Linked DNA regions of Homo sapiens: region 2 is linked to region 1. Evidence: fine-mapped expression QTL. Tissue or cell type: fibroblasts. Region 1 holds a variant in brackets; the other region holds the start of a gene. All regions are shown on one strand. Distances are from middle to middle.

Evidence for each region. PIP is the estimated chance that this variant, and not a neighbour inherited with it, causes the effect.
Region 2: it holds the start of SMARCD2, and the variant in region 1 is fine-mapped to the expression of SMARCD2 in fibroblasts (GTEx, PIP 0.95).

The regions. Positions count from the first base shown.
Region 1 is chr17:64,059,907-64,067,115 of GRCh38, reverse strand. ERN1 (endoplasmic reticulum to nucleus signaling 1) reads left to right here. Exons shown (of 22, transcript NM_001433.5): 8 at 184-445; 9 at 1,829-1,907; 10 at 2,965-3,130; 11 at 6,529-6,647. Among named protein-coding and RNA genes, the nearest start is that of ICAM2, 43 kb to the right of the region's middle. RefSeq lists enhancers at 2,973-3,022, 4,033-4,102. The variant A/G (reference allele first, on the strand shown) is at 4,084.
Region 2 is chr17:63,838,722-63,845,930 of GRCh38, reverse strand. SMARCD2 (SWI/SNF related BAF chromatin remodeling complex subunit D2) reads left to right here and starts at 3,246. Exons shown (of 13, transcript NM_001098426.2): 1 at 3,246-3,472. The coding sequence starts at 3,257. RefSeq lists a cis regulatory region at 1,255-1,644, silencers at 2,754-2,923, 3,294-3,523, 6,348-6,642 and enhancers at 4,244-4,323, 6,348-6,642.

The sequences.
Region 1 (7,209 bases):
TCTTGATATTACAGAGACTAAGCGAGTTCATTGGAAACAAGTGAAATTGCTCAGAGGAGATCTGAGAATATTCCAGAAGTCTTGTTTCCTCTAACTGAGTGACTAGAGCCTGCCACAAGAGTAGAGGATGTGGTTGCAAGATGGGGTGAGACTCAGCATGCTTTGTTTATTTGATCTGTACAGAGATGTCCCACTTTGTGTCCAATGGTGATGGGCTGGTGGTGACTGTGGACAGTGAATCTGGGGACGTCCTGTGGATCCAAAACTACGCCTCCCCTGTGGTGGCCTTTTATGTCTGGCAGCGGGAGGGTCTGAGGAAGGTGATGCACATCAATGTCGCTGTGGAGACCCTGCGCTATCTGACCTTCATGTCTGGGGAGGTGGGGCGCATCACAAAGTGGAAGTACCCGTTCCCCAAGGAGACAGAGGCCAAGAGCAAGCTGACGTGAGTTGGGAGCTCGGGGAAGGAGAGGGCGGCCGTGGCCTTCGTGTTCTGGTGCTGTTGCAGTGTAGCAGGCCCTGCACGGGAGGCCAAAGACAGGGCAGTCTCTGAAGCCATGAGGAATATTCAGAGCCAAGACTGTTTCATTTGGAAACCTCAGAATACAAGAGCTGAGGGGCACCCATTAACACTTCAGAGTTATTAAATATTACATAAAAATCATGGATGGGAGGTGTCGGGCACCATGGCATACACCTGTAATTCCAGCTACTTGAGAGGCTGAGGTGGGAGGATTGTTTGAGCACAGGAGTTTGAGGCCAACCTGGGCAACATGGCAAGACCCTCCCCCTGCCACCACACACACACAAATAAAGGTATAGGAAAGAGACTGCCAGTGTAAGTATAGTTTGGATCTATCTTAGGTGGTAGGGATGCAAGAGATTTATTTTTTTAACTTTCTATATTTTCTAAGTTTTTAGGTTATATTCATTTTAAAAATCAGAAAAAATAGTTACAGTGTGTGTGTGTGTCCAAGACTCAGCAGGCTTCTGTTCTCCATCCCCCTCTTCATAGCCTATCACCGAGTCACTTAAACTCCCCAAGCCTCAGTTTCCTACTTTATATATAGAGTTGTGTGGAAGATCAAACAAGATAATATGCCGGCAAGTGTTTAGATTGTAAAACAGCATTCAAATGTAAGGTATTCGTTGAGAGAGGTTTAGATAATGTAGTGGATGACCGATCCCAGGTGGGCTCTTGACAGTAAGCAGAAGGGCCAGGAGGTGTAGCTCTCACCATTTTCTGTCTCCCTGATGTCCCACATGGGGACAGACTACACAGCTGGGGAACCAGAAGTCTCACCAAGTCTGGAATTTCTTATGCATCCCTTTTGCTCTCAGCATCCAGAGTAGAGCAGCTGACCATTTCTCAGGAGTTCTGTAAAACCTCCAGGATCCTTAGAAAGCACAAGGCAGAATGGGGGTAGTTCTGGTGGTCGCTGGAGTGATCGCTGGAGTGAAAGTGTGTTGTAGAGAGTCATCTGAGGGGCCTCGGCGGTGGTAGTAAGCACTCAGTCTCCTCTGTGGCCACTGGGCGTAGTCCTTTCTGCAGGCATCATGGGCATCGTCTAGTCCAGCCCTGCGATTTTGCTGAGGCTTGCCATTAGGTGGCTTGTCCATGTTTCTGCAGTGAGTGACAGCTGGGATGAAGTCCTGTGGTCCTGTTCCCAGGGCAGTGCCCCTAGCTTCACACCCCTACTGCGTTCCTCCATGTCTGGGGGGTTAATGTGGTCATCCCTGCGGGTGGTATTTGGGGTGATGATTACTCCCTTCTGTGGGATCTGGAAATTCAATGACTCTGGAATGCATGTATCTGTTTTTCTCCTAGGCCCACTCTGTATGTTGGGAAATACTCTACCAGCCTCTATGCCTCTCCCTCAATGGTACACGAGGGGGTTGCTGTCGTGGTAAGTCCACTACGGAGGGCTCGCAGCTGCCTAACCACTTCTGTTCCATTTTAGCAAAGAATGACTTTGCTATGCATGAGCATCCTGCAGGTTAAGAATGAAAAACACAAATCTTAAGTTCTCAAAAACAGTTTCTGCACATGCCACATTCTACTTTGAAAGAAAGATACATGACAAAAACAGCTTCTTAAAGCCGAGGAATCCCTGATTATTCCCTTTTGCTTTTGTGATCAAATCTAAACTCCCCAGGCTGGTGTTCATGGCCCTGCTTCATCCAGTCCCACGATGCCCTTCCTCCACCCTGTTAGTTTCTCTATGTGAGTTGCGTGGCCCAACCATGTGCACCTTCTCCCTGACTTCTACAAGCCCCATGTTCATCTTTCCCCGGGGCCTTTGTTCAGGCTGCTCCTCACCTCACACTTCAAATGCCCTTTCTTCTTCCTTTTCCCTACTCAAACCCTTTGCATGCTTTTGCAATCTCGCCGAGCCTCCTTGGGCCTCACAAGCCTGCCTCAAGCATTCTGTCTCTGAAAGTCCAAGGCGTCATAATCCTAGCTGTTTGTCCTGATCCCTACAATGCTTGGGCTGTGTGGTTGGCTCTCTTGTCTTCCCAGTGATTTGGGCGGCTGCTTCTGTGAATAGACAGCGCCTGCCTCTGTCATAGTTCCAGCAGCACCTGAGCCAGCACTGGGCGTGTGGCTGGACTTTATTCCGCCCCATTGGTTGCGTAGATTGTGACTAACAGAGATATCCATTCATTCTCCTTCACTTATGTCTGCTTCTCATAATAGCTTCTTGGAGTTCTACACACACACTTCTTGTTCCCCAGTACCCAGACATAAGAATCTAAAAAGACGTCCATAAAGACATCAGTGCAGCTTGTCACATCCTGAGGGAGAAGCTTCTTTGCCCAGACTTTGGGCCTTTGTGTCTTGCTCTGTCCTGGACTAGCCCTGCACTAGAAATTGCTCACCTTTCAGGACAGTGGCTGGGATGGTGTGCCGTGGGACCCGCTCTCCCTCCAGGGCTCCTGACCCTCACTGCACCCTCTCCACAGCCCCGCGGCAGCACACTTCCTTTGCTGGAAGGGCCCCAGACTGATGGCGTCACCATTGGGGACAAGGGGGAGTGTGTGATCACGCCCAGCACGGACGTCAAGTTTGATCCCGGACTCAAAAGCAAGAACAAGCTCAACTACTTGAGGAATTACTGGCTTCTGATAGGTAAGAGCAGGTCTCCCACAGTAGCCTGAGGTGACAGCGTGCTGCCTCCTGGTGGGCGACCGCCGGCCCTGGTAGTTACACCGTACTGAGCTCGGAAGGCCTTGTGCTCAGAGCCCTTCCCGGCTGGCCCCTGAGACCTTGGGACATTTTTACCCCCAAGGAAAATCAACAAGGTAGCTGTGTTTCTGAGTCAGTTTTTGAAAACTGTTTAATGTTCCAAAACTCAGGTACTAAATTAATGTAAACCTTGTGTGAGTATCCGACATTAAGCCCTTTAGAATGCATTTCCTCACTCCTCACAGCAACCCTGTGTGAGGTAGGTACCCTTGTCATTTCCATTTTATAGTTAAGAAAACTGAGACTGTTTCTATGGAAGAATTAACTTGGAGTCCACGTGGGCATGAGGGTGAGGGGTTGGAGAGGCGAGGGCTGAGGACCCGGGAGGGATTAAATCCCAGGATGGATTGAGAGCAGCAGAGTCAGGGGCTGGTTGTGGTTCTAGGGCAGTGTCATCCCAGGTGTGTGGGAAGGTCCCTTTTTTCCTCTTTCTCTTGTTTTTGCTGCCATCACTAATGGCCAGGGATTGAACTAGAGGCCCTGTCCCAAGAGAGATAAGTTGAGATGACACTTCTTGAGTTGGCAGTGAGTGTGACAAACGAAGGCGGAAGTGAGAAGAGCTGTGTTCCTGGCAAGTGTGCCAAGTCATTAGAGCAGGAGGGAGTTTTCTTGAACCCCATCTGCCCTTCCTGTGCCCCATCCCTCACTGTTCTGCCACCTCCCAGCCCCAGTAGGGGCAGAGCAGGGCAGGAGGTCAGTCGGGTGCTGGAGCACCCAGGGGCCGGTGCAGTTTCTTCTCTCTGTTCTCTTCCTGTCGTGCTTGCTGGTGACAGGTACTAGGGGAGAAAGAGGTCAGGGCTGGGGCTCTGGAAAAGAGATGTGGGGCAGCTGGGAGC[A/G]TGTGGGGACCAGGAAACAGCAGGATCTGCCAGGCAGTGCGGTGTAGGTGGGGATGTGTGTAACCAGGTATTATGGGGGGAAACCAGGTATCCTTGAGCCCTGCTCGCTTCCTTTATAGATTGTCAAGGTCCATTTCTTTTTTCATCCTGTTTCCTTGTAGCCATTTTTATTTTATTTTTACCAAATAACGGGTAAAGGAGATGACAAAATAATAATACGTTTTTATTAACAGAAGTAGTTGGAGGAGCATGTATGAATAGGCCCATGGTGAGAAAAAAATAGCTAATGAGAAGAGGTCATTGCAATTACAAGGCTGCTCAGCATTATGTGCCAGTTAAGGGGCTCACAGACTGCCCACCAGTGATTAAGAAGTGGAATTAAGGAAATGTGTATATATGAGAATACAGAAAATATGGGGGCAGGGAGTCTTCATGGTTAACTTGTAAAATGAGATCCCTTTAAAATGGAAAGGTTGTCCAAGTAAGGAAACTGCGAAAACAGCAAAGTATAAGGAATCTATTAAGTGTAAGGATCCCACAATTCGAAAGCCTCTTCTGAGGACCTCCAAAGCTCGTCATCTTAAAATATGGCACTGAGACTATGGCAGTGTCTCCTGTTGACGAGGGCCACAAGTAAAAGGATATGCCCTACTATGTCCAGATATGTCCTTTCATTTTCTCTTTGTGGAAAGCATTAAAGATATTCCAGGTTGTCATTAATCGTGAAAATACAAGGATCCAATTAGCTTGAGAGGCATGGTCTGTGGGTTGCCCCAAAGCCATGGCCCTGACCTTGGGTGCTTTCGGCATCAGAGCTTAGTTAACTAGGCATATATAAGCCCGGGAGAGCCTGATTCAGTAGGTCTGGGGCAGGGCCTAGCCATCTGCTTTTTGCTCTGGAATCTGGACCTAAGAGATAATGATAGATGAATACATCAAGGAGACCAGGTAATATTTGTACAAAATATTTAGTGGTCTCATGAGTAAGGTTGTACAGTGGTTGGTCCAGTGTGTACAGCGTGATATCAGTGAAGGCCCAGCTCCAGGAGAAGCCTGTTTACAAGAAGGTTGACAGAAGAACTAGGGGGATTCAGGCTAATGCCTTCCATAGCAGTCTCTTGGCAGGTGTCCTACCAGACAGGTAGGACCCTGAGCACTGAGTGGGTGTTGTGGGAAGGGCAGGACACTGCTGCACAGCGTGGCATGTGGAAGAACACCTCACTTTTCTTAGACCGTAGGTCTCTTGTTAGTGAGCCTCAGAGTTACCCGCACATACTCACATTCGGATTCCTGGGCCCTACCAGCAAGTCTGATTCAGTGGTCTGAAGTGGGCAGACCACAAGTGGAGAAATCCTGCTCCCAAGCAAAGCATGTCTCAGAGCTCCTTGGTACACAAGAGAAACTAGTGGTGGCTCAAAACAAAAGTAGGTTTCCCTTAAAGAATGATATTATGTTGTAGATAGAGAACTGACCTAAAGATGGGAACTCAAAGAGGAATTTTCCAGATCAAGAAATGTACACAGCTTAGACTAGTTCCTGTTTGTTGTCATCTTGGCATGTATGTCATGAAATCTTTGATAGGTTTAGGGGAACAATGGAAAGATCATAAGGTGAAAGAGACGTGAGTCAGAGTGAGATCTGCTCATAGCCAGAGAACAGAAAGGAAAGTCAGCCAGGCTACTGGCAGCCTAATCTGAAACAGTGACCTGGCTCTTTGGGGCAGTATGTGGACTCATTTTTAGAGCTGAATGGATTATCAAGCCCTATCAAATCCCAGTTCCCTATTCTAGTCAGCTTTGTATCTCTTACAGCAATTTGCACACAATAGATGCTCAATAAATGTGTAATGAATGCTCAGTAGCCATGCGATAGTTGTGTAGTGAACAGCAAATGAACGTGGAGCAAGCTATGGCCCCATCCATCTAGCAGGTGTGTCCTACTGCTTTCTCGCAAGTAATGTACCACTTTCCCCGATGGAAGCTCACATTTAGATAATAGTAGGACTGGAACTCCACCTGAGCAATTTAAATACCAAGATGGGAATTCGGCGGCCATAGAAGAGTGATGTTACAGGAAAAAGCATTGAAAGGAGAACTCCTTGAACTTTTAATGAAGCCTCATCATACTTCACCTGTGGATCGGGCCCATGCAGCCCCACGAGCCTTGCGTCTGGTGCCTCCCAAATGTCCTGATCCCTGTCATGCAAGGATACTTCTTCACTCCTCAGTAGGAGACTTGGAATACTGTATTCTGCCATGAAGTAATAAGGGTCCTGCTTTGATGGAATTTTCTGGTAACTGCCACTCATTTTCTCTAACTCACAGTCCTGCTGAGAGTTTGCATTGTGGACCCCTCAGTGGGTAGCACCTGTTGCCTAAGTTTAGCATTGAGTGCCACCACAGCTCGGGAAATTGTTCTCACTAAAGGTTTTGTTTCCTGTCATAGGACACCATGAAACCCCACTGTCTGCGTCTACCAAGATGCTGGAGAGATTTCCCAACAATCTACCCAAACATCGGGAAAATGTGATTCCTGCTGATTCAGAGAAAAAGAGCTTTGAGGAAGTGAGTGAGGAAGCGACCAGTCGGGGGTTGTTGGTGTTAGGTGTTGGGAGGGTGAGGCATTAGACTTTGACTCTGCCTTCTGAGCTTGCAGCCTAGTCTGGGAGGGAAGAGGAATGCACCAGAATCCAAAGCAAAAAACATAAATGGTTAAGGGCTAGTGGAGAGGAATAGGAAGCAACTTGTGAAAGAAGGTGCAGGAAAGGCAGCAGGACCAAGCTAGGCCTGGACCTGGATGAATGGGTAGGATTTGGCCAGGTGGAGGGAGCAAGAGGGCACAGGAGGGAATGGAACAGCAAGGGCAAAAGCCTGGAGTGGGAAGAATGCTGGTGTGCCCAGCTCACAGGCTGTGGGGAGAAAGGCCTGGCCAGACCCGAGGCTACTAAGTAGGGGGTAGTAGGAAATGGGCTCACATGGGTAAAAAGGAACCATGTTACAGGGCCTGAAACAAGCCCTGTGGAGGAGTTTAAGAGTTGTTGAAGGCTGGGTTGGGTGTCTCACACCTGTAATCCCAGTGCTTTGGGAGACCAAGGCAGGAGGATCGCTTGAGCCCAGGAGTTTGAGA
Region 2 (7,209 bases), 220 kb after region 1:
GTGAAGGAAGCCATGCCCAACACCCACCTATTATGATTCCATTTATATGAAGTATCCAGAATAGATAAATCTAGAGACAGAACCCAGATTGGTGGGTGCCAGAAGTTGGGAAGAGGAAGAAATGAGGAGCAACTTCTAATGAGGATGGAGTTTTCTTTTGGGGTCATTATTTTGGACCCCAAAATTTTGGACCTAGGTAGAGGAGGTGTTGCACAACATTGTGAATGTAATATATACCACTGAATTGTGCAATTTCAAACAGTTAATTTTATTACGTAAATCTCACTTCAATTTAAAAAAATAGCCAGGTGTGGTGTATACCTACTCAGCTATTCAGGAACTATCACTTGAGCCCAGGGGTTTGAGGCCAGCCTGGGCAACCTAGCAAATCACTGTCTTAAAAAAATACAAATTTTAAAATAAAAAGATAAATTGAGAGAGAAAAAGATCCTGCCTTCGTAGAGTTTATATTTTAGTGGGTGAGCCACATCAGACAGTAAATCAGCACACACTTAAGTAATGATGTACTGTGATAATCACTTGGTGGGAAGTAGGGTGTGAGAGAACAGAGAGGCTCTGAGATGGGAAGGGGATGGGTAGTTTGAAAAACTGCAAGGAGACCATCTGGGCCAATGCTTGGAGAGCCAAAGGCAGTGATTTAAAATGAACCCAAGGAGGTAAGCAGGGACCAGGTCCTGCAGAGCCTTAAATGTCACAGGAGGGAGTGTGACATTCAATCTAAGAGCAATGGGGAGCTGGGGAGGGTTTTAAACAAGGGATTGACAGGAACTGAGTTATATTTAACCGTTTGATCTGCTTTATTATTATTGAGACAGTGTCTTACTCTGTCACCCAGGCTGGAGTGCAGTGGCACGATCTCTGCTCACTGCAACCACTGCCTCTTGGGTTCAAGCAATTCTCGTGCCTCAGCCTCCTGAGTAGCTGGGATTACAGGTGTGCACCACCACGCCCAGCTAATTTTTATATTTTTAGTAGAGACATGGTTTCACCATCTTGGCCAGACTGGTCTCGAACTCCTGACTTCAAGTGATCCACTCACCTTGGCCTCCCAAAGTGCTGGGATTACAGGTGTGAGCCACTCCACCCAGCTGATCTGCTTTTAAATGCACTTATTAGCTTGCCCCTTTTCTAGGGTAGAAAAAATCTTGTGTTTTCTGATGCGACCCACTGGGTCGCATCAGAATTACCTAGGAAGCTTATTTTTCAAATACAATACTGAGAGCCATTGGATTGGAGGGGTGGCTGGCGGAGGTATTTTGGAGTAGCTTCCCAGAGGACTCTGATTCTCCACTGCCCCTATCACTTTGAGAATTACTGTTGTTCTAGAAGCTTAAAAGGATTGAAATGGATATTAGCTGCCTTATCATGAACTCTTAACCCACTTTACAGGGATGGGAGGGGCCATGATTCAGTGACTTTAACAATTCCAGTGGCCAGTCCCCAGACTGACAGGTTATCGACTCTTGGGGCAATAGAGTGGGATCTCTAAGTTCAGGAGGTAAGAAAACAGCAGCAGCGGTGTTTATCACTAGAGGCATGAGGAGAACTAATTTCTAAAAAGCACTGGAGAACTATACTGTAAAAAAGATCTGGGGTGCTATGATGCAAGGAAGGAAGTATTACTTGGTTGGGGCTGGAAAAATAAAGCAATTATAGTAAAAAAACTAAAAAAAAAAAAAAGTCTAGATCCCGGCTTCTTGACAGTGTGGTCTGAGAAGCAACAGCATCGCTGGCAGCTTGTTACAAATGCAGAGTCCTGGGCCCTGCCACAATCTGCATTTTTAATAAGAGCCTCGAGTGTTTTTTATGTGCTCATTAAAGTTTAAGCAGCACTGGTCCATATCACGGCGAGGAGATCCAGACCATCAGAGGGTAGGCTCCCTGGCACAGCTGACGCATTTTTGAATACTTTGATACAGCACAGTGTACCTGAAAAGATACTGCATTTTTGAAAATTAAGTGCTATAAATACTGGAGAAAGACCTCTTTTTTTAAACTGCGGGGAGGTTTCTCATAAGCCAAATTTCTTTTGACTAGAAGCATTTTCTGGGGAGTAAAGTACCAGGCTTCCTTAAAGTGAGGCGGAGCCACGTTAAAAATGTGCGGTAGAACTCAGCCTTGGCCAAGTCGACCGTTCACCAGCTGGGTCAAGTCTGGAGCCTCCTAGGTCCCTTGGCAGTTCCGAGCTACCAGCATGAGCTTTTACAGGAAGTTGAGTTGGCTGCTGTTCTGCCCCACAGAGCAGCTGAGTCTTTTTTTTTTTTTTTTTTTTTTTTGATGAGTTTCACTCTTGCCGCCCAGGCTGGAGTGCAGTGGGGCGATCTCGGCTCATTGCAACCTCTGCCTCCAAGGTTCAAGCGATTCTCCTGCCTCAGCCTGCCGAGTAGCTTGGATTACAGGCGCCCGTCACCACACTCGGCTAATTTTTGTATTTTTAGTAGAGACGGGGTTTTCACCATGTTGGCCAGGCTGGTCTCGAACTTCTGACCTCAGGGGATCCGCCCGCCTCAGCCTCCCAAAGCGCTGGGATTACAGGCGTGAGCCACAGCTACCGACTCTGAGTTGAGTCTTTAACGCCGAAGATGCAGAAAGGAGACTTGACAAAACTATTTTCGGGGAGTGTGGCCGCGGAATTCGGTGAGGGTGCTATACCGGGAGAGAGTAGTAGCAACGGCTCATTCACTGTGAAGCCCCTAAGTGACCTTAGACCTCTGACCCCGCGCCTCACTCGGCGCTTCCGCGCGCAGCTTCCGCTCCCGCCCCTCCGACGAAAGGCTGGGCCAAAGGTGGGGGGGTGGGGCTCTGAGGTCGGCAGTTAGGGGCGGTGCCCGCTGGGGGCGGGTCTCGCGAGGGGCAGGATTCGAGGAGGCACTCGAGCATTGGGCACCAGGTAGAGGCGGGGCCTAGTGCTGGGCTGGGTTGGGCGGGGCAGGGAGTTCGTAGCCGCCTCTGGGTAACTCGACTCGGGCGGCCAAACCTCCGGAGGCCGGGGACGGAAGGCGGGCCCGCAGCAGATCCTGGATCCGGAATCTCCCGGGCAGGAGCGGAATCTGTCCCGAACCGGGTCTGTGAGGAACTCGCGAACTTGGATTAGGAAATCCCGGAGCCCGGATCGACAAATCCCGGAACCCGGAATTAAGATCGCCAAGTCCCGGATCGCGGAGCACAGAGCACGGAGTGGACTCGACGCGGAGCCCGGAGTCCGGATCGCGGCACCGCGGGACGGGACGGAGCGATGTCGGGCCGAGGCGCGGGCGGGTTCCCGCTGCCCCCGCTAAGCCCTGGCGGCGGCGCCGTGGCTGCGGCCCTGGGAGCGCCGCCTCCCCCCGCGGGACCCGGCATGCTGCCCGGACCGGCGCTCCGGGGACCGGGTCCGGCAGGAGGCGTGGGGGGCCCCGGGGCCGCCGCCTTCCGCCCCATGGGCCCCGCGGGCCCCGCGGCGCAGTACCAGGTGAGCAAGGAGGACGCGAGCGGACGGGGGCGAGAGGCGCTGCGAGGGCGCCCGGGCCGGCGGCTGAAGGGGCCTCGAGTGAGGGCCCTGGGGAATGCATGAGGAACTCCGGGAGACGGTGGAGGGCGGGCCGGGACCCTCGGGCTGCGGCGGGTCGCGGTGGAGAAGTGGGAAGGGGAAGCAGGTTCTGCAGCGGAGGGCTGGAAGCAGCTGGGAGGCCTGGGGGCTTCCGCGGCACAGGGATTCCGAGTGACTGGGAGATGGAGGAGTTTGGGGAGCCAGTGAATTGTGGCGGGTGGGTTGAGAAGTCTAGGGTAGGAGGGCTGGAAAGTGATGAGAAAGTTTGGGAAAGGGCCCTCGCTGAGAAACCGGGGTTACCCTGCATCGGCCTTGGTCCCAGTCCAAGTCTGCCCTGTTTTTTCTGATTGGGAACTGGCGGAGCTCTAGCGTGTCTGAGATGGCTCCCGGCTGCTAATAAGGAGGAAGGAGCCTGGCTTCCCACGGGCACGGGACGCTGAGGCTAGGGCCAGGGGATTCCAGCTTGTGCACGGGCGGACTTTACTCCTGAGGCAGGGCCAGGCGCCTTCGCTGGGAGGACTCCAGCTTAGACCAGAGACGGTGGTGGCCTGGCCTGAGGGGAGGCCCAGCCCAGTCACAGGCCGGCTCTCTTCTGGGCTTTCTGCCTCCTGTCATCGTGTCCGGGAGTTGATTAGTCTGGACGTGCAGAGTGGAGCCCTGCTGGTCTGGGGCCGGAGGAGTCTGCGAGAGTTGCTTCAAAGAGTGCTGTCCTGACCCCTTTGGGGTTTTGAGAGCTGCTCAGATTGCAGCTTCAAAAGCCCTTGCAAAGCAGCGACTTCTGCTCAGTGTGTGAGGACCTCAGCCTGACCCTGCCAGTGCTCTAGTCTGCTGTTCAGGTTGCCCCAGAGGGCTTGGAAACTGTGCCCATCTGCCTTGTCACCCTCTCTGCATTTTTATTTGGCCTTCAGGTTCTAACTCCACCACGTCCGAAGCCATGTGCCCAAGCATTTGACACTGGCTTCTTGCTCATCTACGGGTTTGCTGTGGGCTTCCTCTGTTTTCGACTCATGTCTCCAGGCAGAGGTCCTTAGGGATCCTCGTGGAGTATACACAGCCTACCTGCCCCACTGGGCCCTCACTTCTAAGGAGATGGCTTAACTAGGGACAGTGACTGGATTTTTTTTTCCTTCTTACTCCTCATTCTTCCTCCTTTCTCAAGAGAAAAGAGAGTCTGGGTATGGGCAGAGACAGACCTGGTCCCAGGGATTCCAGCTGGGGCTCATCTCTCCCACCTTGCTGTCCCCGTTGGGGATTCATGGGCCCAGGGTGTTGCTGAGGGCTCCCTGCATCATTCATTGTAGCCCTTGGGCCTGCCCACTGAGACCTGGCCTGGGCACCATCTGTGGGCCTTTGGCCTTGGAAGGACCTGGAACAGACAAGCCGCTCCAGTTTCCTTGGCATGCAAGCCATAGGAAATGTGCCCTTGGGACAGCCCCTGAGAGGATGGATTCCACATGTTTTGGTGGGGGGTGGCCTTGGGCCTGTGGCAAGGCCAAGCTGGCTGGCTGGTTAGGCCTGGGCTGCTAGCTGTGCGGAAGTAGGAGATGGCCCTGAGTCTGGGTTTCCCATCCCACTAGCTTTCCTCCTCCTGGCAGGAGAGGTAGATGGGAAGGAGAACCCAGCCAGCTAACTTTGGCTGAGTTTGAAGAGGATCCTATTTGCCTTCTTTCCAAGTCCAGTTGTATGACTGCCAGGAGAAGGGACTTGAGATCTGGGAAACAAAGGGGTTCCTGTCTGTTAGGGCTCATGAGATGCACTTGAAAAGTGAGAATTTGAGGCCCAAGCTGAGCAAATAGTTGAAAGAAGGGAAGTGATGACCTCCCTTCCTCCAGAGGGTGGTTCTAGCTGTGGATCACAGTTAACAGAGGAACCTAAAAAAAGAAAAAGAAAAGAAAAAAACCTCCAGGGCAGGATATGGTGGGCTCACACCTGTAATCCTAGCACTTTGGGAGGCCCAGACAGAAGGATTACTTGAGACCAGGAGTTCAAGACCAGCCTAAGCAACATAGTGAGACCATCATCTCTTAAAAAAAAAAAAAAAAATTTAGCCAAGCATGGTGGTGTGCGCTTATGGTCCCAGCTACTCAGGATGCTGTGGCAGGAGGATTGCTTGAGTCCAGGAGTTCAAGGCTGCATTGAGCTATGATCCTGCCACTGCACTCCAGCCTGGGCAACAAAATAACAAAAACCTCAGATTGCTGGGTTCACTCCAGAGAGTTCAAAAAGTTCAAAAAAAAAATTTTTTTTTTTCTGATACGGAGTCTCACTCTGTCGCCCAGGCTGGAGTGCAGTGACATGATCTCAGCTCACTGCAACCTCCGCCTCCCAGGTTCAAACAATCCTCTGCCTCAAGCCTCCTGAGTAGCTGGGATTACAGGCGCCCACCACCACGCCCGGCTAATTTTTTTGTATTTTTAGTAGAGACGAGGTTTCACCATCTTGGCCAGGATGGTCTCGAACTCCTGACCTTGTGATCCACCCGCCTCGGCCTCCCAAAGTGCTGGGATTATAGGCGTGAGCCACTGCACCCGGCCTCAAAATCCTTTTTACTCATGGGAGAGTGGGTGGTATGTTCCCCAACTGAGGCCCTCAGGCCCAGGTTCCAGGAGCATCAGGGCCACATTTGGGGCAGGGCAAAGCACGCTCACCGGAGCCCTGGATTCCTCATCTGGGGTTCAGGGGATTGATCCAGGCCTACCTGGTCCTGCTGCAGGCAGGGAGTTAGGGAGGCTCAGAGTGCTGGACTGCTTTTTTTTTTTTCTTTAACTCCTGAGTTGTTTTTTTTTGTTTGTTTTGTTTTGTTTTGTTTTTTGAAGTGGGAGGAGTTGCTAGCGCCTATAAGCCCTATGGAGCTTGGCAAGGCTCAGCTGGGACTTGAACTATAAGCAGCCTTCCCCTGGGGCCCTGAGTGAGCCAGGGGCTCTGGGCCCAGGAAACCTGGAGCAGATGTCTGGGTGGAGCCTATTCCAGACCCTGCCTATGAGGCCTTGTCTTGGGACTTCCTGTTACCGGAGCACCTGCCCAGGAGGGATGGGTGGTGCTGCAGGTTTTGTGAACACTGCAGCAGGGAGCTTCCTGGGGACCACAGGGCCCTCGCTCACCTCTGCAGGACCCACTGCTTCAGTTCTTCCCTGTCTTTGTCTCAGGCACTAGGAAAAACTAGTCTGGGATGTCTGGGCCTGGGCTTACAGCTGTAGCCACACTTAGTTTTTTTCTATAATCTCAGGCCAGAGAAAGAACAATCTTTAAGGCAGAGAAAGAGGCTGTCTTTTGCCTTTCAACAGCTCTGATTAATCTCTTCCTGATGCAGAGAGACTTTGGCAGGACTCCCAAAGCCCCAGAGCCCCCCACTTTGAACTTTTTATTCTCCCAAACACTTCCGTCCCACCCTGCTCCTCCTCTCCCCATCCTCACGTCTGTGGGTCATGTTTCTTTCCATCTCCGCATCTGGTCAAGAATCTGACCCTCTGTGTTGGGAACATGGGTTTAGTGCGGGATGAAGAGGTTGGGGAAGAATCTCATCTCCATGATGCTGGGGTGGGGGAGGGTCCTTTGATTTGGTACAAGTCTCCACCCTGCCGGGCTTGGTTGGCTGGTTGTGCTCGTTGCATAATCTGGGCCCTGGGGCCAGCCCTGTGAAGCTGCCAGGGACAGTGTGT